Regions from separate parts of the Homo sapiens genome. Here region 2 is linked to region 1. A link means that fine-mapping ties the variant in region 1 to the expression of a gene that starts in the linked region. Tissue or cell type: whole blood. Region 1 holds a variant in brackets; the other region holds the start of a gene. All regions are shown on one strand. Distances are from middle to middle.

The links. PIP is the estimated chance that this variant, and not a neighbour inherited with it, causes the effect.
Region 2: it holds the start of DAPK2, and the variant in region 1 is fine-mapped to the expression of DAPK2 in whole blood (TOPMed, PIP 0.96).

Annotation. Positions count from the first base shown.
Region 1 is chr15:63,917,357-63,925,615 of GRCh38, reverse strand. DAPK2 (death associated protein kinase 2) reads left to right here. Exons shown (of 12, transcript NM_014326.5): 9 at 755-800. Among named protein-coding and RNA genes, the nearest start is that of MIR422A, 50 kb to the right of the region's middle. The variant G/A (reference allele first, on the strand shown) is at 3,948.
Region 2 is chr15:64,042,791-64,050,790 of GRCh38, reverse strand. DAPK2 (death associated protein kinase 2) reads left to right here and starts at 4,306. Exons shown (of 12, transcript NM_014326.5): 1 at 4,306-4,493. RefSeq lists enhancers at 1-332, 5,873-5,922, 5,973-6,022 and silencers at 4,133-4,342, 4,363-4,422, 4,453-4,672.

The DNA.
Region 1 (8,259 bases):
CTGGAATTCAGATTTGAAAAGTTTAAGTGGCAGGGTTTTCAAGCCAGTTCAGGTTGGGAGTAGGAGCTGGTAGGCTCAGAGAGGTCAGTACAGTGGGATGGTGGAAGACATGCTAACCCTATCCCTTCTCCAGGGGCCAGGGTGAGTCCCGTGGCTGTGGGGTCAAAGAAGGAAATAGGCAGGGAATTGCAGGGCGCTGGGTACCCAGAGCATGCTCTGGATGGGGCAGGAAGAAAGGTCCACAGACTAGAACACCATGTCCTCTCCATCCCACAGACTTCAGAGAGGGCCAGAGTGGGGTTGTCTGGAGTGCAAGGGCCCTGATTTTCCTGTCTAAGAACAGTGCTAGGGAGAGTTGCTTACCTGGGTACAGAGCAGCGAAAGGCAGAGAACGGATCCAGGAGGCAAACAGAAAAACAGACCAGGGATTTAGCAATGGAGAGTTGGCTTTTGGAAGATTCTGGAAGCTCATTGGAGCATTTATGACTCTTCTTAGGCCTTTCAGCTTTGGGACTAATAGTATGGGTGTAGGTAACAAGGCCACTCTATTGAGGGGTCTGTCTGGACTGCTTCCTTCCCCTGGAGTGCAGGATTTGCAGCCAGCTCCCATCCATCTCTGCATCCTCCATTCCACTGGTTTGACGGCAGTGGCCAAATAATGCCAAAATATAGGTCTAAAAAGAGTGAGAACGGAGATGGTTGCTCCCAACTTCTGTCCTCATGGATCATCACTGTTTCCCAATCCTCATTGCAGGAAACGGCTCACAATCCAAGAGGCTCTCAGACACCCCTGGATCACGGTAAGGGCACAGCCATGAGTTCCAATGGGCAAAGGGTCCCTGCTCTGTCGCCAGGGTTGGCCTGGGCAGCCAGATGCAGAGGGCCCATGGAGAGGCCTTTGCTTTAAACACTGACCCTGGGCACAGATGAAAGCTAGCCAGGGGCCCCAGAGGGCCTGGGCTTATTCGAATAGGTTTATTTGCTTGCTATTTTAAGTTTGTGTGTCTCAAATTCAGGTAACTTATGAAATGAAACCCTCACAAACCACAGTTGAAACCCTTTTTCTTTGGGGCCAACTTACACAGTGTTCTTTGTTGAAGGGTATGTCACTGCCACTTCTCCAAGTGGAAATCAGGACTCCCCAGGTGTAGAAAGATAGATGACAATTGAAAACCCCCACTTTGTGACCAGGCCTCCTTCCTTCTGATTTTTGGGGCTCTAAGTCAAGGATGACACTTAAATCAGCCACCCACCTCCTCAGGCCCTGAGGAATGGGGCCTGAGACAGAGGCCTGGTGGGGAAGAGAGACAGCCACTGTTAGGGCAATTCTGTTCCCTCTGGGGAGAGTCAGGGCAAAAAAATGAATCCCTGCCTAACTCGCCTTGCAGTCGGGCTTCCTGCTGGCTTTCCAGTCAGCTGCTGGCTTTCCAGAGGCTCTTGTGGTCTGGTGTGGTGAAGAGCACTTTGAGAGGGTGAGACTCAGCAGGATTCAGGCCCTAATTCTGCTGACTGACCAGCTATGCACACCCAGGGACGTCACCAGACTTCCCATTCACCTTAACTGTTATGTGAGAAGGCCAGCAAGGATGAAATGACCATAAGAAAGGTGGAGATAAGAAAAGGTGAGGCAGGCCAGGTGCAGTGGCTCATGCCTGTAATCCCAGCACTTTGGGAGGCCGAGGCAGCAGAAGGATGACTTGAGCCCAGGAGTTCAAGACCAACTTGAGCAACATGCCAAGACCCCATCTCTCTAAAAAATAATAATCAATCAATCAATACAAAGAGAAGGTGAGGCCTGTGGAAGACAGAACAGGGAGGGCTGGAGTCGTCTGGGAAGAGGTCAGCTTTATCTGCTCAGCTTCATCAGCTCATTGAAGGATGGGGAAGGCCCAAGGAGCCCTGAAGGAGAGATGCTCCTCAGCCCTGCTGCGTGAGCCCTGGCCTTGCGTGCTCCAGCCCTGCGCAGATGCCTGCGGAGTCCTGGCTGCAGCCTGCTTGTCTGCGTGAGCACCCCTTAAATGCTATGTGTGTGGAGCTCTCTCTAATGGCTGTGGACCCTTCTGCCCTGAATGAGCATGCAGACAGCACCCCCACACTCCTTGACCTCACTTATGGCCTAAGGAGGTGCTCATCCCACCCTGGTTCTCCCCATGGCCTGACGCATGCAGTGAATGCCAGAGGCCGCTTGTGTGCCTTCTGCCTACCCTTTGGACTGCCCTCTGGGGTGGGCGGCAAATTAACACTCTGATTCTTCTGTCTGAACACCCACCAGTCAAAAGGAGAAGGCAGAGCCCCTGAACAGCGGAAGACAGAGCCCACCCAGCTGAAGACCAAGCACCTGAGAGAGTACACTCTCAAATGCCACTCAAGCATGCCTCCCAACAACTCCTATGTCAACTTCGAGCGTTTTGCCTGTGTGGTGGAAGACGTGGCTCGGGTCGACCTGGGATGCCGTGCCCTGGTGGAGGCCCACGATACCATCCAGGACGATGTGGAGGCCCTGGTCTCCATCTTCAATGAGAAGGAAGCTTGGTACCGAGAGGAGAATGAGAGCGCCCGGCATGACCTGTCCCAGCTCAGGTATGAGTTCCGCAAGGTGGAGTCATTGAAGAAGCTGCTGCGAGAAGACATCCAGGCCACGGGATGTAGCCTCGGAAGCATGGCCAGGAAACTGGACCATCTGCAAGCCCAGTTTGAGATTCTGAGGCAGGAGCTCTCCGCAGACCTGCAGTGGATTCAGGAGCTGGTGGGCAGCTTCCAGCTGGAGAGTGGGAGCTCTGAGGGCCTGGGCTCCACATTCTACCAGGACACCAGTGAATCCCTGTCAGAGCTGCTCAGCAGATCATGCACTGAGGAATTTCTGGCAGGCTGGAAGCTCTAATCGCCAGAATCCAGTCAGTGATGCATCCCAAGAGGTTTGCAGAAGCATGTTCTCATCCACCCTGCTGCGGCCTCCAGCTAGAATTATCCTGCAGGGGTGTGTGTCTGTAGTATAGCCTTCCAGCCCCTCCACAGAATCCAGAATTGCTGAGGTGCCAGTTAATTCTTCATTCTGCACCTCCCCTCACCAATCTGGTTTTCTGGGAGGGCTCTGGCAGGGCAGCCAAGCTGTTAAAACAATTAGAGAGTGAGTACCCCTCAGGGTCCCCTTCTGCAGAGGGAGGATGGCTGGCCCTGGGGAAATGCTTGAGAATTGATTTGTGATGAAGGATTTGTTCATATCTCACTTTCTGCCTACATACCTTATGGACTGTAGATCTTGGGTAATATTTGAGTTAATTAGGAATAACTAAGTCAGCATGGTGCTTTCCTGCTACAGAAGCAGGGATTTACAATGCATAGAGAAAATAATATTGCCTTTCGTTTGCATTGATTTTTCACTTACCAAGCACTCATGTCTGACAAATGACCTCACTTGGTCCTTAAAAGAACTCAGTGAGATAGGAAGGTGGGTGGCATTATTATTATTATTATTTACATGTAACTGATGAGAAAATTGACTCAGAGAGGGAAAATGATATAGTCAATCAGTACAGATGAAACAGAAACCCAGGATGCCCATCTCTAAGATGAGGTATATGGGAGAAAGTAGTAAGGCTTTGCTGTAAATATCTACCTTAATATTAAAGTCCAGGTCCCAGAGGTAAAGTAAGCAACTTCATGTATTCTGCCAGGTGTAGGTGGAATGCATACACCTGCAGATGATTGTCCCAGGAGCTCTGTCCCAGAAGGCAAAGTCATTGTCCCTACCCATCCCTGTCTCTGTCTGAAGACCAGCCTGCAAGCAGGAGAGAAGGAAGGAAGGAGTCTTCCCATTCTCCACCCTTTCTCCTCTTCTGGCTAACGGCCCCAACTCTGTGTCGAGAATAAAGGCCAGAAGGTCCTCAACAGGAGGTTCCTTTTCTTATGTACCTAGGCCATTGGGCCTTGAAGGCCTAAGAAGTTCC[G/A]TGAGGGTTTTTGAAAAGGGCAAACATAAAGATGGGGAAGCGCAAGGCCACATGGTCGTTTCATGACCCAAAGCTTTGAGCACCCCTCCCCAAGGATTATAAGATCTCATCTCCCTTTCTCTGGGGGAGGGGACAGTCAACCAACTCATGTCAACAGAGCATGGCATATGAGCCTAGTGCTGAGCTAGAAGCTTGTGGGTAGGGGCATAACTTGTATAGTTCAAAGTGTCTTCATGGCCTCACAAAACATCCCTATCTTAGAGGCAGACTAAACGATATTCCCAATTTAGAGCTGAGGAAACAGGGAGAGGATGGGATTTTCCCAAGGTCACATCATTATGGCAAAAGTAGAGACCTTCTAATGACAAGTCTGTTGCTCTTTCTGCTTCCCCTGGCTGCGCCAGGCTCCAGAAGTTTACTCCCTGCTTGTGGGGGCAGCTCACACCTGGATTCATCCATCCATTTATAAATTATACTTAGGCACCAACCAACTTCCAGATGCCCGGCTTGACTCTGGGGATACAATGTTTAGTAAAAATAGGCCTGATTCCTGTCTCACGGAGTGCTCAGTCCAGCGAAGGATTTGAACATTGACCAAGAATCACAGAGAGATAGAGCTGCAGCTTGTGTTCATGCTGGGAGAGAAGCACATAGCACTGCAGGGGCCTGCCGTCAGGGTCTGACAGCATCGGGGGAAGCGTCCTGAAGCAGTGACACTGGAACGGAGGTCAGCTAAGCCAACCAGGGAGAGAGAAGTTTCCCAACAGAGCCATCATACCAGAGCTCTGTGATGAGAGGCGGTGTGGAAGGTTGAGAATGTGAGGACTGAAAGCTGGAGGGGAGAGAATAGGAATACAGTGCGGAAATGACCGGAGAACAAGCAGGAGCAGCAGGGCTTTGGCCATGTGGAAGAGCTCTGCCCTTATCCCGAAAGTCATGAGAAGCCAGCGGGTTCCAGGTGCTGGGGAGGGAATGCCCCGTGAACAGCTCAGACAGGAAGTGGTTTAGGACAAGACAGGAAAGCTTCATCTCATGAAACCATTTCTTCAGAATCCTGTCTCCTTTTCTATATGCATGAAGGATCATTTCAAATATCATATACAATATTTGTAACAGAAACTTACTTCATCAGCTATGAGAAACCGTGGTGATAAGATGCATCATCATTTTATGGACCACTAAGAAAAAAGGCCCAAGATGGGGCGTCTAATAGGAAACTCTCTCTACCCCCACCACATAAAGCTGTGATGCCCTCAATGAGAGGGTAAATGAGAAATAGAGCCACCATGCAGAAAGGGGGAGCAAGGAAACCCATGCATCTCAACCTTGACACTAAATGGGGGTGAAAAATCCTTCCCTGAGAACAGGAGTCCCAAGCCGGTGGTACTCATGCAGGTTTGCTTTCTGAATTTGCACTATCAGTGTGATCCAAAAGAACATCAAGCAGAGAGTGTAATGTCCAACAGTCTGAGGCTGGGTGGCCCTGGATGGCTGGCAAAAACAGTACTATCCTCTCCCGGAGCACCTGCCTTCTGTCCGGGCCAACAGTAAGAATATGATACCATCATCTGGGAGATGCCTCCTGACTTCAGAGATCCAAAAATGTATATCTTGGAACCAATGAAAGATGGCAAAAGCTCCATTTCCTACATCTTACCCCAGAGAATTGGTTCAAATGACCTGTCTACAGTCTCTCCAAGGTCTTACCTGCCCTGTCACGGGAAGTTGTATACTTGTTTGGTGCTGAGACACTGCAAATATTAAATGTCCCTTTGGCCGTGTTAACAGACCTTGACCTTCACACAGCCAGGTTTCTAAGGAGAGGAAGCCACTGATGGGGCAACACAGGGCAAGCTTTTTAGTGAAGGTCAAAATAGAATGCAGGCCCAGTGTGGTGGCTCATGCCTGTAATCCCAGCACTTTGGGAGGCTGAGGTGGGTGGATCACTTGAGGTCAGGAGTGTGAGACCAGCCTGGCCAACATGGAGAAATCCTGTCTCTACTAAAGATATAAAAATTAGCTGGGCATGGTGGTGGGTGCCTGTAGTCCCAGCTACTCAGGACACTCGGGAGGCTGAGGCAGGAGAATCGCTTGAACCTGGAAGGCGGAGGTTGCAGTGAGCCAAGATCACGCCATTGCACTCCAGCCTGGGTGACAGAGTGAGACTCTGTCTCAAAAAAATAAAAAATAGAATACAGTAAAAGAGTAAAATGTTGGCAATGATTTGAATGGGGAAAATTGGGAAAAGGGAGGGAGAAGTGGTTGTTTTAGAATCATGATCAGCTATACACAGTGCTGAGAGTCACCCATTTAGTTGGCCGTGAGCTGGACTCCGAACTCTAAGTGGTTTTCCTTATAGCAGTGACATCGTCCTCTCTATGCTCATGTCCAGTCACTGTAACTGTTTCTCACTTAGACGTGTCGTAAACAGACCTTTTTCTGTACAAAGAGCTTCTAAAGACAAATGAAAGAGAGTTGAGAAATGCCCCCAAGTCTTTTGGGGAAAGCAGAGGAGACCATGACCTTCCTCTGTGTCCTGGCCAGCTGAAGTCCCGTCCTTCCATGGCATTGGAACCTGATGCTGGGGGAGCCCGGGGGCCTGTGGGATGCAGCCACAGGACCTGCTTATCTCTGCTCCCCACACGCCCTCAGCTGACTTTTTACAACAGTGTGGAGGGCTAACAATGGCGGGAAGGGCTGTGAGAATGGACTGTTTCGCTGGTGCCTAGAGGAAGGAAGGCTTGTGGGTGCTGCTCTGTGGGCAGGCCCCTCTGCCATTGAGGATTTTTAATTCACCAAATTGCAATTTTTTTGGTGGGGGAGCCGCACAGAGTCTCACTCTGCCGCCCAGGCTGGAGTGCAGTGGCATGATCTCGGCTCACTCCAACCTCTGCCTCCCAGGTTCAAGCAATTCTCCTGCCTCAGTCTCCTGAGTAGCTGGGACTATAGGTGCGCAGCACCATGCCCGGCTAATTTTTGTATTTTTAGTAGAGATGGGGGTTTCACCACATTGGTCAGGCTGGTCTCGAACTCCTGACCTCAGGTGATCCACCCACCTCGGCCTTCCAAAGTGCTGGAATTACAGGCGTGAGCCACTGCACCCAGCCCAGACTGCAAATAAAAGGTCGGCTTCTGTGCTCTGTTCAAACACCATCCTGGGCTGTTTGGGAGGGGAAAGTGAGTGTATGACATCGCCCTGAATAACAATTCTCAAGGAAGCTGGCAAGCTGGCCCTTGGGGAAGGCAGCTGCCTGTCCCTGCTGTGAGGCAGGTGCTCACAGCCTAGCATTGCCTGACTGTGTGTCAGAAGGTGGGGTGATGGTTTGGTAATCGATGATTCTGCAGCTGTGGGAGCCTGGCAGTGAAGGGATGGAGCAGAGGAATAATGGCAGAAAGAGCTGGAGTCTCCCCCATGGGCCCCCTCCCCTCCCTTACAGGTGATCATGAAGATGGTGGCTTCCTACCTCACTCCATCACGCAGCACAGGTGGCCCGGCCCTTGCTGGAGGTGGCTGTGTGCCCAGCTGTCACCCCTACTGTCAATCTTCTGTAAATGTCTGTGGGACTGGATGCCTTTTTTCCTTGGTCCGTGAAATTCCTGACCCAGCAGTGGGCATGTTCACGTTGCAAAAGGGTCCAGTCCCGTTGAACAAACACTGATTGTGCTCTGGCTCAGGGGGAGGTGACAGACAAGGACAAGATAACCTCAAATAAAAGATTCAGTGTCTGGGGCAGATGGGGACCCAGCCAACTAGATTGGAAAAGCTATGGTGAGTGATAAAATAGAGCTTCCTCATCTCCTAGAAATCAAAGGAGAGAGGAATTCTGATTGAGAAAGGGTAAGAGGGTTGCAGAGAAGAGAGGCCTTCCCAGGGACGCCGTCCCCACCAGTGACCGCCCTCCTCCACTCCCAAGCTGTGTCCCTTGAGGAAGGCATGAGTAAAATCTGGAAGGGGGGTGGGGCTGAGCCAAGATTGGGGTTAGGAACTTGGAACAGTTGAATGGAGATTAAAGAGAGGGAGATTACACAGATTTAAAAGAGTGTTTTAAACTTTTTGTTATGGTCCCCTCAGCAGGAAAATTGCCAAAACTTGCACAGAAGTATAAGGAATGGGATAGTGGATTCCAGGACCTATGACCCCGCTCCAGCAGGAATCAAGTCATGCGGGTCCTCTTTCATTCATCTCTCCCATTACTTTTCTTCTGGGGTATTTTAAAGCAAATTTCAGACTTATTTAACTCATAAGTTCTCCAGCATAAATCTCTGCTAAGGATTTTCTTCTTCTTTTTTTCTTTTTTTTTTTTTGAGACAG
Region 2 (8,000 bases), 130 kb before region 1:
ATGGCATTGGGTCTTTATTTGCCCCTACTCCAGCACATAACCCCAGGAGGTACTATTGAATGTTTGCGGAGTAAAAGAGTGTGTACACATGTCCAGGAAATCCCCATCCCCCAGGTTCTCTAGAGAGAGGCAAGGCCTCCCATCCCCCAGCTCCTTCCTCCCTTCTCTCCTCCCCTTCCCTGCCCCATCCCTGTGGTGCTGAGTCCAGCAAGGCTAGAGGCTGAAGCAGCTGCCTCTGGCTGCAAGAACCAGTGCCCCCGGGGGTGGGGGGGGTAGCAGGAAAGGTTGCCAAACCAAGCCTGCTCCACACCTCCCATCTAGGAGGGCAGATGGCACAGGGCAGAGTGGGCATGGCTGGGAAGGGCTGAGAAGCCAGGCCACCAGGTCAGTTTGGGAAGAAGCAGCTTCCTGCCGGCCTTCCATCCAGTAGGCAAGCCCTCTGGGGAGGAATCACCTGTGCACTCCCTTGGCCGAGAGCCTGAGAGTCAGGACTTGACCCGTTGTCAAGAAGACTGCATTTCAGACTGCATTTGGCAATTCTCTGGGCCAGGCTAGGGGTGGGATGGGGCGCAGAGATGAATAAGATCCATTTCCTCCCCAGGGGAGCTTATTGCCAGACATTTAGGGAATAATAATAACAGTTAATAATCATTGCGGACTTTACCAAGTGCCAGACACTGATCGAATTGAAAAGTAACTGCATGCTCACAACAACCCAAGAGATAAATGCTACTATAAGCTCCATTTGACCTATGGGGATAATGAGGCACAGAGAGATCAAATAGCCTGCCCCAGACCACATGGCACGTAAGTTGCATGCTGGGATGCCTGAGTGTGGGCCCAGGCAGTCTGGCATCAGAGTCTCTGCATTTAGCCGTCACACTACACATGCTGTAAGCCAACCCAGGTGCCATCTGCCATGGCCAACATGCAGCATCTTAATCCCCACCTTGCCCCCTTGTCAGGAGGTTTTTAGGCTCTGTAAACTTGCCAGGCACCAAAGTATGCTTTAGGATATCACCATGACTAGTGCCCTTTGCTGCCTGCCATGGTTACATCTTTATCTATGGGCTTGTATTCTCATCCCTGGGAAGCACAGGTCCTGTGACTCTACCATCTCACAGTCCCTTGGAATGTCTTTTACAAAGCAGGTACTCAGATGTGTTTGTCATTGAGGGGGTTGAGAATTTCCCTAGGTCTCTGTGACATGAACAGACTGGGTCTCAACCTGTGCACTGGGAATCACCTGGGGAGTTTAACAAAAACTGATACCCAGAACTCATCCTCAGAGGTTCTGATGTAATTGATGTAGGGTGCAGTCTAAGCATGGGGGATTTTAAGCACCCCATGTTATTCTCAGTTATTCTGATGTACTGCCTGGACTGAAAAGTTCCAGATTAACACTGTTTTAGAAATCTTGGAAGTTTCAGTTGAGGGAAGGCAGCAGAGGGAATAGCTTCAGAGACCAGTAGGCAAGATTCATGTCACAGCTCAGCCACTTACAAATTGGATGAGTTTGAGCAAATCAAATTTCTCAAGCCTCAGTTACATCATCTGTAAAAGAGGATAATGACATCCCCCTAGAAGTGAAGCACTTGAAGTAAGATTATTGAGCATCTACTAAGTGCCAGGTGCTTGGGTGCTCTTAGGGGACAATAGAAAACAAGACAGCTATGGCCCCTTGTGATATTTACCTTCCTTAATTCAGTTTAAGAAACCTTTACTGGGTTTGGGATATCAAGCACTGTATGGGTTCAAAGATGGACAAGAAATTGTACTTGCCCTTGAGAAAAGGAGAAGTAGACACTAATTAAAATAGAGGAAGGAAGATGACAAGAGATGTACCAACCAAGAGTGGTGAGGTTCAAAGGAGAGAGGTATTTAGAGGGCAGACCAGGGAAGTTTCTGTGGAAGACATGATACTTTAGAAGGCTCTTAGAGGATAGATAAGATTTTGTAGAATGGGATGAAGGGTAGTGGAAACGAACAAAAGCATGGAGGCAGGAACAGCCAATAATCCAACCTGGCAAAAGAGCTGGATGTGCATGCAGAGGAGGGAAGGGAATGTGCATACACAGCAGGAAAATAAGGGTTGGGGCCTTAAATGCTAGGGTGAGGCATTAACACTCGATTTGGTCAGCCATGGGAACCATGCAGGGACTGGAACTGAGTTGGATAATTCTTAGCTCTTAATACCTGGACTGCCTCTGGCTTCATTCTGGAATTTGTGTCTTCATTGCCACTGTCCTCGGGGCCTCCCCTTTTCTGCTGATGGCCACCTTGGTCCTGTGTTCAGTGCCCTGTCGCTGCCCTCAGGTGAGGGTCTGATGAACTCACCCAACCTTAAGCATAAGATGCATCTCCAGATGGTAGCTTCCTAGATAGTTGCATTCTGGCAGGTACAGTGGAAGGGGCACCAGACTGAATCTGGAGGAGGCCTGGTTCTAATCCTAGCTCTGTCTCTCACCAGCTATGTGATGTTGGGCAAGTCACCTCCCTTCTCCGAGCCTCAGTTTCCTCATCTGAAAAGTGGCCAGGGTCAATTGACAATGACCCTTCCAGCTGCAATGGACTCTGACTAACTTGTCAATTGCTAAACCCAAGAATGTCTCTTTTGACTCATGTAAGGGGCTGCTGCTGCTGACAATGAGGTATTAAGCATGAGGCTCAAGGGAAAGAGATGGAGAGGCCACATGTAGGTGATCAGCAGGGTCAGCTGAGCCCAGCCTTGGATTCATCACAGCCCAGGTACTGGGTATGAGAATGGAGAAATCTCCAGATGATTTCAGCCCCCAGCTATTCAGGTGTTCCCAGTTGAAATCCCAGACACTGCAGAGCAGAAATAAGCCATACACACTGTGCTGTCTGAACTTCTGTCCCTCAGAATGCATGAACATAGTGAAACTGTTGTCCTGTGCCACCAAGGCTGGTAATGGTTTGTCACCAGTGATAGGTAAATGGAAATGGAGGAAGAGGTGTTTAGGGATAGTTTGGTGGGGGACTTCTCATGTTGGTGAAACTTCACCAGTGGGTGTCATTCCCTTAGGTCCGTTGACATCAGAAACCACCTCTAGTCTTGGATATTACTCTATATATCATGCTGCTCTTAGGAGAGGAGGCTCGCTGGCTGCACTGTTCTGAATTATTGTGAAGTTTATAAACAAGGAACTCTTTGCCGAGGATGTCCTGGACCCGGAGGCACTGCTCAGCTGGGGGGTGGGGTCCATCTGTATTTGTCCCAATGTCCAAAAGGCTGAAGGGTGTGTGTGTGCTCACACTGGTAGAGGTCCTCTAGGTGCATCTTACACACTCCATCTCATCTCAGCCCCACCATAGCTTCATTAGGAGCTACCGGAAGGTGCGTTTCTCCCACTTTACTGATGAAGAAAGAGCCATGCCCAAGAACACACATGCGGAGTGGCAGGGCAGGGCTTTGAACCTGGTGGTAGGACTCTGAATCTAAGGCCCTTTTGAGGAGCCCCATGGGTGACTTAGGGATGGAAATTCCAGGGGTTGGAGGGGTCCTCATTTGCTTCCTCTAAACAGCCTCTTGTTTTGAAATAAGACAAATGAACTTGGCTTAAGTTCTGTTTTCCCTTCCTTCCTCCCTTCACCCCCTCACTCTCATTCCTTTTTTCCTCAGGGATTTTTTGGCAGAGGGCAGAGAGAGGAACCCATTCCCAAGTCCTCTATTAGAGAAGGCGTGATGGTGAGAGGGGGGCTTCACTCAGCAACCGTGCCAGGACAAAGGGCAAACGAGGGCAGGCCGCTCTCAGGCTGGGTCGGGGGCAGTGAGGAGCAGAGCGGCCCTTCTCATCGCAGCCCCCACCTTGCTGTACGCTGTGGGCTTGAGGTTTCCAGGAGAGTCTGCGGTGTAGGGAGCGCTCTGGCTGGGAGGGAGGAGACGGCCTATTCCTCAGTGGGGCTTCCTCGCTCACGGTGTGTATGGTGGGGAGAGGAGCACACAAGTACCATTTTCTGAGGATTGTGCCAGACCATGTCATACGTATAAGCTCATTCAAATCGATTTCCAGATAAGGCCGGGGGAGGGTAGCCGACTTGCCCAAGGCCACGCAGCATGTGCGCGGTAGAGCCGGTAGGGACGCGCAGAGGGTCTTGCTACCGACTCTCCCCGCTCTCCCGGGAGTCTGGGAGCCCTGAGGTGTCCCCTACCCGGCCGGGAAGCTGGGCTCTCGCCCCGGGACTGTCCGGAGGGGGCTCCAGCAGGGGGCGCCCCGAGCCCCGTCCCGGGCAGCCGGGCGCGCCTCCAGCCGGCGCCTGGGACGGGGCTGGCCGCTCCGCCCCCTCGGCTCCTAGGCTGCTCGGCGGGCGGGTGCCGGGCGCTCTGGGAGGAGAGGACTGCAGGGCCGAGCCCAGCGCACCCCGCCGCGTCCCCCGTTCCCGCCGCGCCCGCCGCGCCCGCCGCGCCCGCCGCGCCCGCCGCTCCCGCCGCGCCTGCCGCGGCCGCGACCGCGGCAGCTCAGCCTCCCGCCGTGAGTAGCACCCGTCTGCGGGCTCGATGGGCGGGACGGGGCGCGCGGCCTGACGGCAGCAGCGCCCGGGTCTGGGGCTGGCGGGGCGAAGAGATCCGGGGCACTCGCTCGCAGATCCCGGGCCCGCCGCCCCAATGCCTGACGCCGTGGCCCGGGGCATTGTGGCCGGCACCCGAGCGCGGGAGCTGCCCGCCGCTGCCCTGGGGCGCCCTCCGGAGCCTGGCACTTTGACCTGGGAGACAGGGTAGAGGCGGCGGGCAGAGCCAAGCACCCAGCAGGGAGATGGGAGACAGACGTCCATCGAGTTAGGCCCCCTGGAACGGGCAGAGCACGCCCGGCTCCCGGCCAAGTCTTCTCAGCTTGGGCTGACTCTCTCACCTCTTGCTCCCGCCTGGCACAAGGATGTGATGCGAGGAGGGTGCTCAGATGTCTGAGCTTCCTCTGGGGCTGAATGAAGCTGGGGTCCCCGCCGTCAGGCGCCCCGGCCTGGGGTAGAGCTAGGATGGGCGTGGGGGCGGCCAGCAGGTGTGCTGCAGGTTGGGGTGGAACGGCTTGGAAGGGCGTTGCCAACAGTTGACTAGGACTCTGGGCTAGGCATTTTGGAGGTCCCAAGGCTTGCATAGGTCTGGCTAACCCTCACCGTAACTCTGCACGGTGGAAATTGGTATTCTTACTTTACAAAAGAGAAAACAAGGTCCAGAGAGGTGAGCCTCGTTGAGGCCGTGCAGGTAATGGTAAGGCAGTGGTGCACACTGGAGGAGAGGGCACCATAGCTGGCTGCCTCGGGGGCAAGCGGGCAGGTGCAGGGACAGCGCCTGACATCTTGTATCCTGGAATCCTGTGGAGGGCAGCCACTCTGGTTTCTGACACTGCGACTCCCAACTGCCTCTGTGGAAGATATTCCTGGGAGAGTCCTGTTGACCTAAGAGGCCGTGGTGCCTTGGCCTCTTCACAGCTAACTTCACAGCCCTGTCCTTCCCCAAACCGCTCATCTCCCAAGATGTTTTTTGAGCACCCTCAAGTGGCACCACTGATGATTCAGCACCTTCAGAGGAGACTTGGGCAGAGGGGTCAGGGGTGTGTGGATGTGGCTGGAGGTCTGCTCCTCTGGGGTAAGTTCCTGGCTGGCAGGAATGAGACCCGCACTGACCCTGCCCACCTCCTTGAGGCCTCCCGATTTGTTAGCTGTGGGGTGAACAAGCAGGCTTCCCAAGGGAGCTGGATCTTTGCCAGAGAGACCAAGTTTTTCTTGTGTCAACTCAGGCAGGTGGCTGACCTTCTGTGGGCCCCAGCTTCCTCATTGGAGACTGTGATGGGTCAAAGCCTGGAATGTAGAGAGGAGCTCTGTAATGCCGGAGCCCCATCCCTTCTGTTGGCAGCCTCTCCAGAGCCTGAGTGTGATGATTCCTAATGGGGGTGTGTGTAATGAGACGGTCGTGTGTGTTTTGCCCAACCATTGCCTGCCCTCTTGCTGTGGTCCCGTTTCACTCACTTGCACTTGGTGAGGTGGGATGAGGAACTGAGAGAGTTCACTTTGCAGAGTGAGCTGGGCCAGTGGTGGAGAGGGCTTCTTGAGTGTTGAGAGTTTCCTATGAGGTGATCTTCCAGCCCTAGACACCTCCTCCTAGCTTGTCCCTCAGGAGGCCACTGACTTTGCCAACCCTGGTGACATCTTGGAGGAGTTGGGGTGGCTATCAACAGAAGAAGCCCTGGGAAGAGGAGCGGGATGGGTCACCTGTATGATGCTCAGTGAGTCCCTTCCCCTTTCTGGATCTCAGCTTCCTCTTGTAAAAACAAGTGGGTTAGACCAGACAGCAGTGGTTTTCAAACTTCTGTTTCACAGTGAATTCTTACCCAGAACGCCAACATATAGTATGGATAACGTGGAACTGCTCTGGCTTCCCCTTCTCACCCTGGTGATCCTGAAGCAGTTCTAAAAATCCCTAAATAGATGATCTATGGGGTTCTAGGAAATCTGTGGTAGCCCCCTGAAGTGTTGCCTGGTATTAGAGTTGTAGGCAGGAATTTGAATTCCAAGGACTCCATCAGGAGAAACATGGGCATTAAGGTGGGTATCATCCTGGGAGCATCTGGAGCTGATGGCCTGTGCTTCTGGCCAAAAGTTGTAACTGTGTCCCTTCCCTCTGCCATGTGATTTCAGCTTTTCGAGGCTGGAAAGGTCCTTGTGCCTCTGGCTCCTTATCTGGGTCCTAGCTGGTGACTATAATTCCACTTCAGTTTCACCCCTTTAGTTTGTTTCTAAACTGGTAAAATGCAAATTCGCCTTAGGAGAGGTGTTAGGAAAGTGCTTGAAGTGGCTATCAGTTGTTTTACCTGATGAGCATCTGAGTAGCGGCCTTGAGAAAGGAGGCTGGGGAACTAAGTTAAAATCAGCCAACACTTATATAGTGCCTACTGTGTACTAGCCTACGACAAGGGGACAGAGGTAGGAATGTCACAATTCTTGCCCTTATGGGGCTCCAAGTCACAAAGAGGAGGGAAGGAATTCACGTTATCCATGGACCGTTTAAAACATTACACATGGGTTATCTCATTTGTCTCACATTAGTCTCATTTTAAAAAATTATGTAAAATTTTGATCACATACAAAATCATCCCATATATCCATCTAACTACCACCCAGATCAGGAAACAACATTGCTGGCACTCTGAAGCCTCCGAAGCTCCCCTTCCAACTCTCCCCTGAGTGAGGGGATAGCCACTCTGCTGACATCTAGCACCATGCATTAATTTTACCTAAATGGGATCACACAGTATGCAGTCTTTTGTGTCTGTCTACTTTCATTCAACATTATGTTTCTGAGATTCATCCATGTTGTTGCAGGTAGCAGTAGTTTGTTAATTCTTATTGCTGTATAATGATTCCATTGTATGGGTATATAGTACCTCAATTTGTTTATCCAGTCTTCTATTGATAACCATTTGGTTGTTTCCAATTTTTAGTTATTACTAATAGTATTGCAGTGACCATTCTAACGTGGATCATTTGGGAAAACATCTGCATGCATTTCTCTTAGATATGTCCAAAGAAATTGCTGAACAGTTTTCCAAAGTGGTGGTCCCAGTGTATACCCCTCCCAGCAGTGTTTGAGAGCTCTAGTTGCCGCACATACTCACCAACACTAGACATTGTCTTACGTTCATTTTCCATGGAAGGAATGTGAAACTCAAAAGTTATCCTGTGCTCAGCTAAGACAATGTGCCAGTAAGTGACAGAGCTGGGATTTAAACCCAGGTCTGTGTGATGACTATGGAATCTATTCTCTCCCTCTGGGTTAGACATAAACATAAGCCAGAATATGATCAACTCGAACCCTAAAAAGGTATGAAGAGCACTCTGGGAGAACTTGAAGAGGTGGAGAATTGTCATCTGTTTTTGGGAGGGCAAGGATCATGGAGCCGCACAGAGACGGTAGCATTTGGCTGGGTCTTGTGGGAAGTGGGTAGTTATGCCCACTCTCCAGGGCTTTCCAGCTGGGCCTCCCC